2 separate regions of the Homo sapiens genome follow, and region 2 is linked to region 1. Evidence: fine-mapped expression QTL. A gene starts in region 1. The other region holds a variant in brackets. All regions are shown on one strand. Distances are between the middles of the regions.

Evidence for each region. PIP is the estimated chance that this variant, and not a neighbour inherited with it, causes the effect.
Region 2: its variant is fine-mapped to the expression of DAAM2-AS1 in lung (TOPMed, PIP above 0.99).

Annotation. Positions count from the first base shown.
Region 1 is chr6:39,893,383-39,901,721 of GRCh38, forward strand. DAAM2-AS1 (DAAM2 antisense RNA 1) reads right to left here and starts at 3,998. Exons shown (of 4, transcript NR_125831.1): 1 at 3,815-3,998. DAAM2 (dishevelled associated activator of morphogenesis 2) reads left to right here. Exons shown (of 25, transcript NM_001201427.2): 20 at 3,430-3,598; 21 at 3,793-3,900; 22 at 5,495-5,555; 23 at 6,695-6,826; 24 at 7,920-8,090. RefSeq lists enhancers at 3,417-3,916, 4,217-4,733.
Region 2 is chr6:39,959,113-39,967,451 of GRCh38, forward strand. LOC102723789 (a long non-coding RNA gene) reads left to right here. Exons shown (of 6, transcript XR_001744112.1): 4 at 4,398-4,447. Among named protein-coding and RNA genes, the nearest start is that of MOCS1, 29 kb to the left of the region's middle. The variant G/C (reference allele first, on the strand shown) is at 3,475.

The DNA of each region.
Region 1 (8,339 bases):
AGGTGGGCACCTGTAGTCCCAGCTATTCAGGAGGCTGAGGCAGGAGAATGGCATGAACCCAGGAGGCGGAGCTGGCAGTGAGCCGACATGGAACCACTGCACTCCAGCCTGGGCAACAGAGCATGACTCCATCTCAAAAAAGAAAAAAAAAAAGAATTAGTCAGTGGATATTCAGGAAAGAGTCTCCATTTGATATCAAGCTAAGCCGAGTAAGATGTGTTTGGGATAGCAAGATCTGCTGGGGAAAGCTACTCTTCTATAGCTCTGCTCTATAATAATTGCTCTGTATAGCAATGGCTGCTGTCCTTGTATAGACCAGACATAAGTCTCTTTCCTCTAAGAGCTAGATAGGAAAGATATGCCTAAAGTTGTGTATTATAGAATCAGATCAGTGTGTGTGACTATAAGTGGAGAAAAGAGGATTGTGCAAAGATGGGATTCTTATTCTTCCTTCCAGTTCTCCCAGGAAGTATTCCTGGAAGAGCTAAGATTTAGCCTATCCCAGCTAGGTGTGATGAGCTGTTGACACCTGCCCTCCTATCCCCAGCAGGGGCTCTGAGTCCATTTGCCAAAAGCTAGTTCACCAAATTTGACAAATTTACCAGTTCTTCTATGAATATATTCATGAACTTACAATTCTTGAATATATTCTTCTTATGAATATATTGCTGAATATACCACATTTACCGATTCTTATTATAAATACATTCACCGAATATAGTCAAGATGAATATGGTTGCAAATGTAATATTCTTATGAATATATTCATGAATATATTATTCTTGTGAATATATCTAAAATGTCAGAACTGCATCTGGGCGTTTTCCCATTTACACTGATTTCCTTTGAACTCTTGTCATTTTCTGTTTTGCCAACATTTTAGCATTTTTAGGAGGATTCCTTTGCAGATTTTCCAAATAGCATATAAACCTTAGAAAAAACATCCCAACCAATATAAATTGCCAGAAACTTTCCCAAGTATTCTTTTTAAATAAACTATTTTTGAAACATAACATGCATATAGAAAAGTACACAAATCATAAGAGTCCTACTTGAAGAATTAAAAAAGGGAACCACATGTGTAATCAACACCCAGGTCAAGAAATACAGCTTCCAACCCCCCAGAGCCTTCTTCATGTCCCCCTCCCAAACTTTACCCCCCTCCCTCCTCTCTAAAGGTCAAACCCATCTTGACTGCTAGTTTAGTTTTATCGGTTTTGAACTTTATTTTTTAAATTTTTACCTATTTTCTTTTTGAGACAGGGTCCTGCCCTGTCACCCAGGCTGGAGTGCAGTGGTGTGATCTTGGCTCACTGCAACCTCTGCCTCCTGGGCTCAAGGTATCCTCCCATCTCAGCCTCCCAAGTAGCTGGCACTACAGGCACATGCCACCAGCCTGGCTAATTTTTGTATTTTTGTAGAGACAGGGTTTCACCATGTTGCCTAGGCTGGTCTCAAACTCCTGGGCCCAAGTGATCTGCCCACCTTGGCCTCCCAAAGTGCTGGGATTGTAGGCATGAGCTACCATGCCTGGCCTGTTTTGAACTTTATATGAAAGGAATGATAGAGTATGAATAATTTTAGGCTGGTGACTTTTGCTCAACATTATGGTTGTGGGTTGTCCCTGCTGTTACATGTAGCAGTGGGGTATTCATTTTCAGTTCTGCATTTTATTCCATTATATGAATACACCATAATTTACCCATTCTATTTGGAATTTAAAAAACCTAGAAACAACCCAAATACCCACCAAGAATAATGTGGCTTTTAGGTTATAGAGTATGTACATGTTCAACTTAAAAGCTACTGACAAACCTTACTATTCATTTTTACAACTTTATTTACTTATTTATTTATTTATTTATTTATTTGAGACGGAGCCTCACTCTGTCGCCCAGGCTGGAGTGCAGTGGTGTGATCTCGGCTCACTGCAACCTCTGTCTCCTGGGTTCAAGCAATTCTCCTGTCTCAGCTTCCCAAGTAACTGGGATTACAGGTGTGCACCACCACGCCTGGCTAATTTTTGTATTTTTAGTAGAGATGGGGTTTCACCGTGTCACCCAGGTTGTTCTCGAATGCCTGACCTCAGGTGATCTGCCTGCCTCAGCCTCCCAAAGTGCTGGTATAGCTTCTTTTTAACAGTTACTTATTTCTAACTGTGTTCGAAGCTTTCTACAAACTTTTAGCAAAGTCGTTTTCATTTTATCTTCCTAGCAGCATCTTAAAGAATGTTCAGTTTGGCATAAGCCACAGATCACAGGATAATCTGGTCTTTTTGTTGCCACACTGAATATTCAAAAATCATATTCCGTAACTAGTAGACAAAATCTCAGTTTAGGATTTGTGTCCCCCTTCTGCACACCCACCATAAAGACATCATAGCTGAGGAAGGGCCAGAGCATACACAGCAGAATGAATTATTGAAGTTTTGGTTACTGTTAGCTTAGTTTGTATTTCTGGCAAAGATAACATTTAGAGCATTGGGGGAAAATGGTTAAGATGCCCAAAGGTTGGAAAAATCTTAAAAATGACATTCAACAGGATGTCAAGTAGCTTATTTCATCAAATCTTAGACACTATCAACTGAAAAGCATGCCATTATTTTATAGAACAAAAATAATAGAATATTATAATTTAGAATATGTTATTTAATTGATTTTTTTTCTTTCCAAAAAACCAATAGAATATAGCATTTCAAGACAGGCAGAAGCAATCCCATAATAGGTAAAATGCTGAAGTTAAGTGCTAGGTTTAGAAAAGTAAAAGTGTCATATTCATGAGTATATTCATGGAAAGAATATCTGAATAATCTTTTTTTCTTTTTTCTTTTTTCTTTTTGATACAGAGTCTCATGCTCTTGCCCAGGCTGGAGTGCAGTGAGGCAATCTTGGCTCACTGCAGCCTCAGCCTCCTGGGTTCAAGGGACTCTTTTGCTTTGGCTTCCCAAGCATCTGGGATTATAGGCATGCACCACCACACCTGACTAATTTTTTGTATTTTTAGTAGAGACAGGGTTTCACCACGTTGGCCAGGCTGGTCTCGAACTCCTGACTCAAGTGATCTCCCTGCCTCGGCCTCCCAAAGTGCTGGGATTACAGGTGTGAGCCACCGCAACCGGCCTTCTTAATAATCTTTAAATACATGTAAGAAAAGATCTTCTGAAATTGTCTTCTTGGGAAGAGCTGGCACGTCCTACAAATGGGGTATCTGGTGAATTGGCCTTGGTGAATGTGTCTGCTTCCCCTGGAGGTGGGTGAATGTGAAATCGATGGGTCTGCTGAGGAGTAGGTATAATCTCTGCCTCACTGAGAGTTGAAGGCATTTGACAGCCCCTTTTCTGAACTTTGCGGTGGCATCTTCCTGGGGTGCAATGAGAACTGCTGCCCTGCCTAGCCCATGCAGGCCTCTGACCTGTGCCTCCTCTCCCAGCCATCCTGTTGGCCTCCCGGGAGCTGGTCCGCAGCAAGCGTCTTAGACAGATGCTAGAGGTCATCCTAGCCATAGGCAACTTCATGAACAAAGGGCAGCGTGGGGGCGCCTACGGGTTCCGGGTGGCCAGCCTCAACAAGATCGCTGACACCAAGTCCAGCATCGACAGGTGAGGACCTCCCTTCCCGGCCACTTCCTTGGCCTCTATCTCACCCTACCCTGGCCTCTCACATCCTCCCTCTATTAGGACGGGAACATCCTAAGACTCATCACCCCTTTCTCTTAACACTCCATCCTCTGACCCTCTGACCCTCGTGCCCAGTTTCCTCTGTCACTTACCACTGACCTGACTTTCATCCACAGAAACATCTCTCTGCTCCATTACCTGATCATGATCCTGGAGAAGCATTTTCCTGATATTCTAAACATGCCTTCAGAGCTGCAACATCTTCCAGAAGCTGCCAAAGTCAAGTGAGGGTTCTCTCCAAGACTTCCTTCTCCCCATGATGACCCTCATTCTTGTCTTACTTTCCTCTTTTGGGGTCTACTCTGGGCTTGATGATGGCTGGTGTGAGACCTCGGTTCTTGTCTTCTGAGTTCAAAAGAATTTAAACAGACACACAGCAAAGGGGGTTTAGCATAGAACAATGTATTGCAAAAGAAGATATCTTGTGAGTTAGGTGCAGAATAGACAGTACACCCTGAGAGAGAGAGGATTCAGGGTGGGCTGCTTGTAAGGATGAGACAGCCAAGACTGGCACCAGGAAGACTCCCAGTATGGGAGACTTACACGATTATTCATAAAGAGGTGGGAAGAGGTATTGGGAAGCAGGCTCTGAGTGGTCCTCTGGGTGCACATGTGTAGTAGCTGTGTGTGCTTTTTCATACATCGCATGTCTCATTAGCACCTTAAATCTCCACCTAGGGGTGTGTTTTTTTACTATTATATGAGCAAAGGGCCAGTCTGAGGATAGGTAAAATCAAAATGCGCATGCTTTCCAGAGGGGAAAGTCCCTACTGCAGATAGCTTTGCTTGAATGAGCTCAATTACAATGCGAATGCTGAGGTTTATTGTGTTGACTGTATGGGCACCACCACAGCTGCTGTGTTCTGAGAAGTGCTCACTTCCTTGACTACCTATCCTGCCTCAGGCTGAGTAGGAATGGGCCATGTCTCAGGGTCTGCTTCTGGGAAAAACCAAACAAAGACAATTTGCTCTTAAATCCTTATTTCAGAGATGCTTCCAGAAAATACCAGTAGAAGAATGGGGAAGTGAGCCAGAGATAGAAAGAATGCCAGTAACAAACATTATTAAGCCAGTTACCAATCACAGGCAATTGGTGCTTAACCCCATGAGGAATTCTGGGAAACAGTGTGGAATAGTTACTTCAGTTTTCCCACCCAAAGGGCAAGGTTGCTGGGGCAATCAGAGAGCATCTCCTCTCAGTAATTGGCTGAGGGGCTCTGCAGGGGCAGGGAATAACTCTCTGGCCACAGGTACAGGTGGAAAGAGCTTGGCCTCAAAAAGAGTGTGCGTACAGTTGGAAGAGTTGGGGCCATGCCCTACAATGGATGGTCCAAGGAAATGTGGGTGGGGCACCAACAGCATCTGCTAGGCAAGATATCAGACACGAACATCTAGGCTGATAGATGTCATCTCCAGGAAAACTAGAAACATAGTGGTAAATGGCTCACTGGTATCGAATGCTATTGCTTGCAGGATCACATAAAGAGCTTATAAGCATTACCTGGTAGTAATAAAAATAAATAGGTCTAAGCCAGAGGCCACAGGTTGGAAATCTTCTGATATTGCAGCATGACATTTCTGACCTGGAAAGATCTATAGAATGCAGGCTTCACCTTGTTAATTTATTGATGCACAGACAGAGGCATGAAGGGGAGGTGCTTTGTCAGGGCCAACATCAATGGCCACACCAGGGCTGGAACCCAGGCTCACCGACTCCCAGGCCACTGTGCTTGGCTCTGCCCTCTCCCTGAACCAGCCTTAGCACCTCAAGGCGGGAGTTGATGGTCCTCATTCCCTTCCCTCTGTGTCTCCTTACAGCCTAGCAGAACTGGAGAAGGAGGTGGGCAACCTCAGGAGGGGCCTGAGAGCGGTGGAGGTGGTGAGTACCTTGTCAGTGCCTACCTGGGTGAGGGCTGCTGTCAGCAAACACTGTTCGTCACTGCACCCTAAGCTCCTACACAGGGGCAAAAAACAATGGGTACAGCCTCTAGCACAGGGTCAGCCCTCCCAAAGGATAACTGGATTACTGGGGCTTAAGTTTGAGCCTTTTAAAAGGGGTTACCTAAGACTATACCCATGTTACTGTCCAACTTGGTATCTATTTGGCAGTGGAGTGGAATGAACCATACATCTGACCCATGCCTACATTGGATTCAAGTGCATGGGAAAAAGAATCCTCATCCCTTGACTGCCAGCTAGGGGCAGGAAGCACGCAATGTGGCAGTGGGACCGATGTACCCAGAAGGTTCTTCCTTATGTCTCTCTGCCTGTTTCCTGGGCCAGTGGAGGACCCAGGTCTTTTGTTCCCACCATTCCCGTTCTGATGGCTTCTCGGCTGATACTATCTCTGGCCCTAGCCTTCCAGAAAACACCAGTAGAGGAGTGGGGAAGTGAGCCAGACTGGCCCAGTATGGGGATGTCTCTAAGTCTTGTCCCCCACACCTAGGAAGAAGGGACCCGTTCCGTCTTCACTGAGGAGAGAGGCAGTGGGTAAGGGAAGAATGGACTTTAGAGACAGATTAAGGATGACAAAGAACGTTTTGTTGCCACTACGGTGGGGGAAGATGATTTCCAAATTTACAATTTTATAGTCCTGTTAAGTGCTACTCAAAGTGCGGTACATGGACCAGCAGCTTCTGAATCAGCTGGGAGCTTTAGAAAAATGTCTCTTTAATTTGTGCATGAGTCACCTGGAGTCTTGTAAAGATGAGTCTTGTTAAAATGCAGCTTCTGATCCTGTGGGTCTGAGAGTCTGTATTTCTCATAATTTCCTAGGTGATGCTGCTGGCCCCAGGTCACATGTTGGGTCTCAGTGCTCTAGAGAAAGAAAGATGGCAGGGTGGGCTGGCTGCTAATGTTAGCTCATAGTCTTTGCCATCCTTAGAACTTTGAGATGCAGGGTGTTCCCTCTTCCAAAGGGCTCAATGTCCTGTGAGTGACGAGGGGAGATGTGGTGACCCCTGCACCCGACTCTCATCTTGGCACCAGTCTAAGCAGCACTTCACCCTCCCTCCTCAGGAGCTGGAGTATCAGAGGCGCCAGGTACGGGAGCCCAGTGACAAGTTTGTCCCTGTCATGAGCGACTTCATCACGGTGTCCAGCTTCAGCTTCTCCGAGCTGGAGGACCAGCTAAATGAGGCCAGGGACAAGGTAAGGGTGCCCCAACCCCCACTGCTTGCCAACCCAGCCTTATCTAAACAAGCTCCTTCACCCATTCCTACCACAGACAGCCCAGGAGGGACAAACCCAGAGTTACAGAGCTTTGAGAGAAAACCGTTTCTTCGCTCTTAACAAGACAAGCAATGATAACCACATACCGCAAAGATCATGGTCCATTTATCAGATATCAGGCACCATGTTAAGTGTTTTAATGATTTGTCACCACCTACCTTATGGGTTTGTTGAAAGGTTATTTCCCACTTGACAGATATGAACGCTAAAATCAGAGATGCTAAGTAACTTGCCCAAGATTGCCCAGCTGTAAGTTATAGAACTGGGTTAGAATCTGACACCACAGCTCAGCAGTGGACATGATTACCATGCCTCTATCTGCTTCTCACACTAACGTGTCCATAGACCTCATGTATGGGGGTCTTATTAAAACATGGATTCTCATTTAGGAGGCCTGGGGTCTGAGATTCTGCATTTCTAACAGGAGGTGAATCTGCTGCTAGTCCATGAAGCACACTTTTGAGTAGTGAGATCTTTCTTAGAGGATACTGAGTGAGTTGAATTAACAATGGTAGCTCTCAGTAACTCAGAACAGTGCCTGGCCTATATAAATATAGCCACTGTTTTATAGCCACCAACTCATCTAACCCCCCAACACCACTATGATGTAGATTCTATTATTCCCATTTGACAGTGGAGGAAGCTGAGGCACAGAGGGGTTATTAACATAACTAGAGGATCTTTGAAGTTCTGAGTTCTGCCAGCCTCTTCCTGACCTCAGGAAGGGCTTCCCAAGGTCTATACCCCTGACCTCATGCCTACCCCTTACAGGCCCAGGGGTGGCTCTAAGGTGGACTGAGTGAGCCCAACTCTTTACCTGCCTCTCCTTAGCCTTGTCTCTGATCCTGATGATGATGGGGGTGTCTTCTCACCTCTTCCAGCCCTGCCCCCTGTGCCAACAGTCCCCAGCCTTGCGCTGGGCTCTGCTCTGGCTAGAACCCAGCTAACCTCAGGGGCTGAGCCCAGCATGCTCCAGGGCACTCTCCACCAATCCTGTTCTGTCCCTTGACAGTTCGCCAAGGCCTTGATGCACTTCGGGGAGCATGACAGCAAGATGCAGCCAGACGAATTCTTTGGCATCTTTGATACCTTCTTGCAGGCCTTCTCAGAGGCCCGGCAGGATCTAGAGGCCATGAGGAGGAGGAAGGAGGAGGAGGAGCGGCGGGCGCGCATGGAAGCCATGGTGAGGGGCAGTGCCAGGCCTGGGACTGAGGGGAGACGGGTGCTACTTGGGGAGAACACCCCCAAACTGGGGTGTGTGGGAGGAGGGCAGAGACTGAGGAACTGAGGAACACCATAGGGGTTGGATGTCAGCCCCAGGAGAGAGAAACTTCTTCCCAGCCTGAGGGAAGAGAGTGGTGTGAAGCTGGGGGCCTGTATGTCCTAGGCAGGAAGAAAGTGGGGCCAACAGATACAGGCAGGCAGCATGACC
Region 2 (8,339 bases), 66 kb after region 1:
GCTGTGTGTTCTTGAGCATGCTGGTCAACCTCTTTGTGTTTGTTTACTCATGCACAGAGTGGGTGTGGTGGCATGAAAATGCACCTGGCAGACCTTCTAGTGCAGAGCACATAACTAGCCAAGGGTCCCAGTTGCTACAGTTTGGAATCCATCATAGCATGTGTGCCAGGGTCACATCTCTTCCGGGCTGCTCCCCACTAATGACTGAAAATGGCAGGGGTACTAAGGTACATCTATTCCCGAAAGACACGGGACTCCTTTCTTAACCAACTGTGGCTCAAAGACTCTCCAAAGGCTTTGCTGAACATTTCCGAAACTGCTGTGTAGTCTAAGACATTTCTACCCAGCCTTTTCTCCCTTTCTCCTTCACTCAGAGTCAATCTTGGGTTATGACATGATTCTCCCAGCCTTTACCCTCTTTCTCCCATTTCTTTTTCAAAGGCATTTCCCTGAACATACTTGCACATTTATTCTGGTCTTGTCACCTTTGTCTTGGAGGACCCAGATTAACACAGTGGAGACAGTAGTACCTACACCTCACAGAGTTGAGAAGATGAGTTAATTCATTTAATATGGTAATAGTCATACTTGAGAAATAGTAATAACTCAGTCCATTTTGATTGTTAAAGATAGACCCCATCTTACATTTCTAGTATTACAGAAATGCTGTAGCATTGTAGCAGATTAGATAATCCAAAAACCTTTTCATTATAAAATACCATGAAAGTATGATTAAATACAGAAAATAATCTTCTAAATGCATAGCTGAGCTTATAATAACATAAATCCTGGAGCAAAAATGAATAGAGAATTGAAAACCAGAAGTATTCTTCAGTTCACATTGTAGCTGTCCTTAGGTTTGTCTACCTCAGAGACCATGATGGAGGCTTTGCACATGAAGCCGAAAACTATCAAAGAACTACTACTATATTTTCAGAAGAAGGGCAGCAACTAAAAACAAGATCAACCCTTCAGCAAAGAGGGATATCAAGGAAGCTTGTCTGTTTTTACTTGTATTTGAATAAAGGGATAGGATTCCCCCAGACACCTGCTCTCCCTGAAGGCAGAGTTTCACATTTAGATCTCTTATGTGGCTGAGAACTCCCAAGCTGGTAATATCTGTAACAAAGAGAATGTAAGTCCTCTCTGGAGGGACAAAACCTTATCTAAGGTTTCTCAGAGTTCCCTTCAATACAGCCCTGCTAAAGGTGAACTCACAATCCACAATCACAAAACACATAAGAAAAGAATTCACCATGAGTGAGAGTTGTCAGTATTAAAAGTGGGATTATAGTCTCAAATTTAAAAGATAGTAATTGTAAGCATTTTTTAAAATTTTAAGTTAAGTGGTACATGGGCAGATTTGTTACACAGGTAAACTTGTGTCATGGGGTTTTTTTGCACAGATTATTTCACCCAGGTATGAAGCCTAGTACCTATTATTTTTTCCTGATCCCCTCTCTCCTCCCACACTCCACCCTCTGATAGGCCCCAGTGTGTGTTGTTTCCCTCTATGTGTCCATGTGTTCTTATCATTTAGCTCCCACTTGTGAGAACATGCAGCGTTTGGTTTTCTGTTCCTGTGTTAGTTTGCTAAGAATAATGGCCTGCAGCTCCATCCATGTCTCTGCAAAGAACATGACCTTGTTCTTTTTTATGACTGCATAGTATTCCACAGGGAATCAATATCATTAAGCATCTTTTACTCTCTCTGGCTGGAAGTTACATTAATAGTTTTTTTTAAATATAAGAGAAGGCTAAATTATCAAAATCAAATAAAAGTGTTAAAGACTCTCTTAGTTTAAGTTCTCTAGAAAGCAGAGCTTGAGACAAGGATGAAGATGGAGATATTTTATTTAGAAATTACAAGCCCAGTGACATGAAAGTGAGGGAGAAAAGGGGGAAGTGGGGCAAAGAAAGATGTGAAGCAATGTAATATGAGGCATTACTGCACTAGCCACTGGTTCTTGAGAAGCCATGAAGAAACACAGCTAGTCACATAGAAGGTATATTTGCTTAGCACACAGTACCTTTCTGGAAAGTTTTAAAAAAGAAGCACCACCTCTGATTAGAAGGGAGAAAAGAAGGGGGAATTTCTCTGCCCAGCTCCTTCCTGTTTCTCATTTCCCATTGCTCAAATTTCACACCATGGAGACCTAACTCATAATTATTGCATTATTCATCCTTTGATGTCACTCAGAAAGCCAGATCCTATGTCCATAAGTGGAGGAATGACTTGTTGCAGACAGGCATGGCATGTGAGATGTGAGGTCCGTTCAATCTCAGGCCCCCAGCCAGTCTGGGAAGCCGAGTAGAGGCGGCAGTGCGCCTGTTTACTCCAGGGAGTTATCGCAAATAGGAGGAATTTTGAGAACAAGGGAGGCAGTTTGGCTCTGAGAAAGTACACAAGGTTTGTGTCTGATGTGAAATGAGAATAGAGCCATTGAAATTAAGGAAAAATTCCCAGTGGAAAGATTAATCAGATCCAGATGAAGATAGAATTGGGAACTGGAAAAGAAGTGATTTCTCTGTGCTACATTTTGGGTAAGGAAACATTAAAAAATGAGAGGCATGAGAGATAGAGTGAAAAGGTTCAATTTATATTCAGTACAAATTTCAGAAGGTGAGATTAGAGAGAATCAGCAAGAGACTACATCGGTAAAGAATATGAATCCTTAGATTCAGTTTCTATGTGAGAATTTTTTTAAGTCCAAGGGCAGGTTTTGTGCACATAGATTAAAAATCAAACCCAAATAACTAAAAATAAAGTTTTGTTTACTAAAATTGTAAATGTAAACAGTTTTCCCTAAACCTCTAAATTTATCTTATAAATTGTATTATACTGTTTTAAACCCAGTAAGTTTTATATAAAATAATTATTTTCAGGGAGCCTTATTAAATTGGACTGATTACTTAAGGGAGTTTGATTTTGATTAATGTTAAGTAAACCTGAATTGAACAGACTAGTTTTCTGTAAGCACTTTAACATTTATAAATTTAATATATTCCATTTTCTTTAAGAAATTAGAAGTCTAAACTCAACAAACTCATGACCTAACAAACGAATCCTTCCCTCATTATTAAGCAGCTACAGTTCTTTTAACTATCCTAACACTCTTTATAAGTTAAGTCACTTCCTCTTATACCATCCAACCTCAAATCCAATGCACATTTAATTTGGAATGACAGGTCAATTTGTCATTTACTTTAATATGCCACATTCAATTATATTTTACCAGCATTTTATATACCCACCACTCAGATTATCTTGACTGTAACATAAACTAATGTCATGGGTTTGATGCACTTCATAATTTCTATATTCCTGGGGTTAAAAGACACTTAACCCACTAAAGTTCAGTGTTATTTTAGGTTACTGAGACAATTCATGATGTGATTATCACCCAAGGCAAGTTGGATTTGCAACTGGACAGAGACATAGAGACATTTGGCACAGGGATACCAGACTTGGAA[G/C]TGCCTGTGTCAAGTGTGGCTTCATGCATCACAGATGGATGTACTGAGTCCAGTTTTAATAATCTCTAGATTGTTAAGGACCTTTCAGGTAGGGTTGGTACCTACTGTTTCAGTTATACACCATCACACAATACTTTTTGTAATCTTTCAGTTTTATTACTTGATTTGAATCATCTGAATTCTACAATCTCCAACCAAATTTCAGCTGATTTTGTTCCCTAATGTCATCACTACTTGACTAAACTACGTATTTTTCGTGGCTACCAAGAGTCTGGTATTGGTAGACTCTGCTTCTCTCTTTTCTTTACCTAGCTCTATGGTCACAACACCCCTGAATGGTATAAATAAAAGTAGGTATACATTAGACACATTGAAATGGAATCAGAAGCAATGGCTACCAAGAGGTGGAAGTGGCCTAGTCAAAGCAAAAGCAGACCAGTGAAGAGCAAAGATCGTGGCAAAAGTTTCTTGGAATGCTCAAGGCATTTTTCTTGTTTACTTTCTGGAGGGCTGAAGAATGATATCATCTGTTTATTATGAGTGTTTTGAGAAAGCCAAGCTTTATGAGAAAAATACTCAGGAAGACTGCTAGAGAGTCTTTCACTACGACAATGCTCCTGCTTATTCCTCTTAAACAAGGGCAATTTCATGAGATTTGATGGAAAATTAGGCATCCACCTTACAGTTCTGATTTGGCTCCTTCTGATTACTATTTGTTTCCTCATCTTATAAAATCTTTAAAGGGCACCCATTTTTCTTCACCTAATAATGTAAAAAAGGTTGCACTGATGTGTTAAATTCCCAAGACCCTCAGTTCTTTATGGATGGACTAAATGGCTGGTATCATTGCTTTCAAAAGTGTCTTGAACTGATAGAGTTTATGTTGAGAAATAAAATGCTTTATTTTTATCTTTTAATTCCAGTTTCCATGAAATTTTGAGGTCACCTTGTATCTTTTAAGTGCTGAGAGAAGGTAAGAATGAACCTACAATTTTATGCCTAGTCAAACTATCATTCAGGACTGAGAAAAAAGTCATTTTCACAAAGACAAAGACTAAATTCCCTAACAGACTGTTTCTGGAAAAAAAAAAGTTAAACTACATAAATTCCACTCTATGAAAACACTTGCTATTTGCTATCTAAAATGCAGGAACGAAATAGACTTGCATAACATGATATACTTTACAGTCTCAGTATCCAAATTCATTATCCAAACCTAGGAACCAGAAAGTTCAGATGGTGAGGAAAACATAACTAAAGGAAGAAAAATTAAACCCCCCAAAAAAAGAAGTGAGATTCTCAAGAAGGAAAGGTGAGCAAGGAAACTGATTAACATATGGGTAAAACTAAATGACCATTGTTTGAAATAATACAAATAATCATTGTTTTAGGAGGTATACAAAATAGTGGAAATAAAATATGTACTGATTAATATATGAAGTAGAATTGGTAATTGAAATGAAAAGTTCAAGGTTTTGGCAATCGGCAGGAGGAGATTAGAAATATACTAATCGTAGCAGGCACTGTTGATACCGGTTTCCCCAGTATCCTTTCTGCCCACCCAAGTTCATTTGCAACTGTGGTAGACAGTTTTCAACAGGCTGACAGCTCCTGCTGAAGCACATGTCTCTCTCCCATGCCCAATGTCCTTCTCCTGAACCACAGAAACGTGCTCTGCCTTAAGCACCTGTAACCTGGAAGTTTAGGGAAGTTAACACCCATGGATAACGTTCAACCAATAGAGGAGTCAGATAAATGTCCTGACCTCCTTATCCCCTGGCGGGAAAATTGTCAGACACATTCCATTTGCTTATTCAGAGGGTTTGAGCATGTTATCCACAACAGTTACCTGCCCATGAGGGCTTCCCGTATTGGCTTCTCTCTCTTCCCCATCTCACTGTCCCATTCATTCACTTGTGCTTCCTGATTTTACTTCCAAATGCCTGTACTCAAGTTCTTGTCTCAAGGGCAGCTTCTAGAAGAATCTGAATAAGACACCGATTACCTTTAGAATTTAACTAAAGCATGCTTGCTACAATTTTAAGAGTAATCACTAAAACGATACAGACAGGATGTGAAAATTCCAGGTATAAGGGAAAAAAGGAAATGAAAAACCTTAAGTCAATAAAGATAAAAGGGGTGGAAGGGGAAGAGAAAGTTAAGAAAATCTGAGTAAATATTGTATTTCTTAGAATCTAAGAAATCTAGGATGACATCAGTTGTAAAATGTACTTAAATTTTACATGCTACTAAGTTAAAAAAAGCTGCTAACTACAACATGAATTGTAAGAAACACTTTAATTTCAAAGATATTGCAACATGGGGAAAATGTATATCTTTTGGCAGCACCAGAAAGATTCTAGAAATATAAAAGTATTCAATAATCATTATATAAAGGGGCTAAGTCATTTGAAAGGTCAGATTGTCCAACTGGATTATATTTTTAAGATTAGCTCTATGCCATCATTAAGAGATACTTCAAACATGAAAGAACACAAAGGTCACACATAGAAGAATGGAAAAAAGATAATATCAGGCAAATATTAACTAAAAAGCTGGTGTAGGTATCTCAAAATACCTCTAGAAATGCTTTTTTGCTTTAAGGAGAGCTTCTCCATGGTTGTAAAATTTCAATTCCTAAGGAAGATGTGACATTTCTAAATATTATGTACCTAAAACAGCCTAAAAACATAGAAAGCAAAAAGAAGTACAAGGAAACATAGAAACAGCCTAAGAACATAGAAAACAAAGAGAAGTGCAAGGAAAAGGTCAACTCCAGGTAACTCCAAAACAATCTAGTATTGACAGATCAAATAAATAAAAAATTAATAAATGTTTAGCAGATGTTAACATAATGACTATTATATAATGAACATGTAATAAACCCTATATCACAAATTAAAAATATATATACTCTTACACATGGAACATTTATGAAAATTAGCCACATATTAAGACATAAAACCAACCTTACAAATACTGAAAGAATCAATATCATACAGATTGTATTATCTGACCACAGTATAATTAACTTAGAAAGCAGTAACAAAAACATAAAAATACATTTGGAAATTTTCAAACATGTAGTTTTTGGGTCAAAGACAATATTGTAAGAGATATAAAGAAACATTTCAACTGAATAATAATGAAAATCTATGTATCAAAACTCATGCGGTACAGCTAAAGCTACCTTTACAGAAATTTACAGCCTCATATACTCAAAGAAGTCTGAAAATTTATGAGTTAATCATCTAACTCAAGAAATTAGAAAAAGAACAGGGTCCAAAGTAACTAAATGGAGGACAATAAAGATAAGATCAGCAATTAATTGTAATATCTTGCATTGGACTCAGTTTTTTTTTACTCTCCTACAATAGGATTATACATCCACATCCTCTACGTACAATGGAAAGATACTGTAAAGTTACTGGGCAGATATAGTTCCCTGCCCCCCTGAAAAAGGGCTTCACTATCAAGGCCAAGGCTTCCCACTTGGCCTCTGCTGGCCTCAGGACCACCAAAACTCAGCATTTAAACAACAAGCATTGATTTCTTACTGCAGGGTGTATGAGTCAGCTGGGATAGGCTAAAATCTGGGCTTCAGCCTCCAAGTTGCAGGTTGTGTTCAGGTCCTTAAACCTGGAGCACGTTCTTCCCTTAGTGAATGGCAGGCAAGCAACAGATTAAACTAGGCCGGGTTCGGTGGCTCACACCTGTAATCCCAGCACTCTGGGGGGCAGATGCAGGCATCGGAACACCTGAGGTCAGGAGTTTGAGACCAGCCTGGTCAAAATGGCAAAACCCCATCTCTACTAAAAAAATACAAAAACAGTTGGGCATAGTGGCACGTGCCTGTAATCCCAGCTACCTGGGAGGCTGAGACAGTAGAATCACTTGAACCTGGGAGGCGGAGGTTGCACTGAACCTGGATTGTGCCACTGCACATCAGCCTGGGTGACAGCAAGACTCCATCTCAAAAAAAAAAAAAAAAGATTAAACAAAACTGCGCTAACATATTCAAGTCTCCTGCTCCTATCAAATTTACCCACATTCCATTGGCTAAAGCAGAGTTTTGGTCGTCCCCAGGCCAGCAGAGGCCAAGTGGGGAGACTTGGCCAGACTGTAAGGAAGCACCAAAATCTCCTGTCCTCCAAAAACTGGTATCAAAGAAGGCCAAGTGAGAATATTCATCCTTCCTGGCAGTACCAGGCACACTGCACCCACATGGGAGCCTCGATTTCCATGGCCCCTTGGCAGTAATAAGACATCTCTCCCCTCCTGCTGGAGGGTGGGTGTCAGGAAGCCTGTGGAGAGGGCTGGGCCTTTCGCCACCAGCCAGCCATAATGAGGCTACCCTCTACCCCTATGGTGTCAGTGGAGGCTATTTGGAGAACACTCATGAGACACTCCTACCCCTCCCCTCAACCAGGGAGGCCTAGATGGGGGCTGGAACTTGCACCCCTGCCCAGCAGTAACAAGGAGTTCTCTCTCTCAGGTGTTAATAAAGGCCAAGTGGGAAACCTGGACTTCCAGCCCCACCTGGCAGTGGAACCCCCCTTCCCCTATCAGTGCAGTGTCAGAGGAAGCCAGTTAGAACAGAAAATTTATGTAAGATCAGACTCTCATGACATAATACCCCAAATTTCCAGGGTTCAATCACAAATCACTCATCATACCAACCACCAAGATCTCAAACTGAGTGAAAAGAGGTAATAAATGCTCATATCAATATGACAGAGATGTTAGAATGATCTGACAAATAGTTTAAGATAGTCATCATAAAAATCAATGAAAAACAACCAGATTTTTAAAAATAGGCAAAAGATTTGAATAGACATTTCTCCAAAGAAGATATACAAATGGCC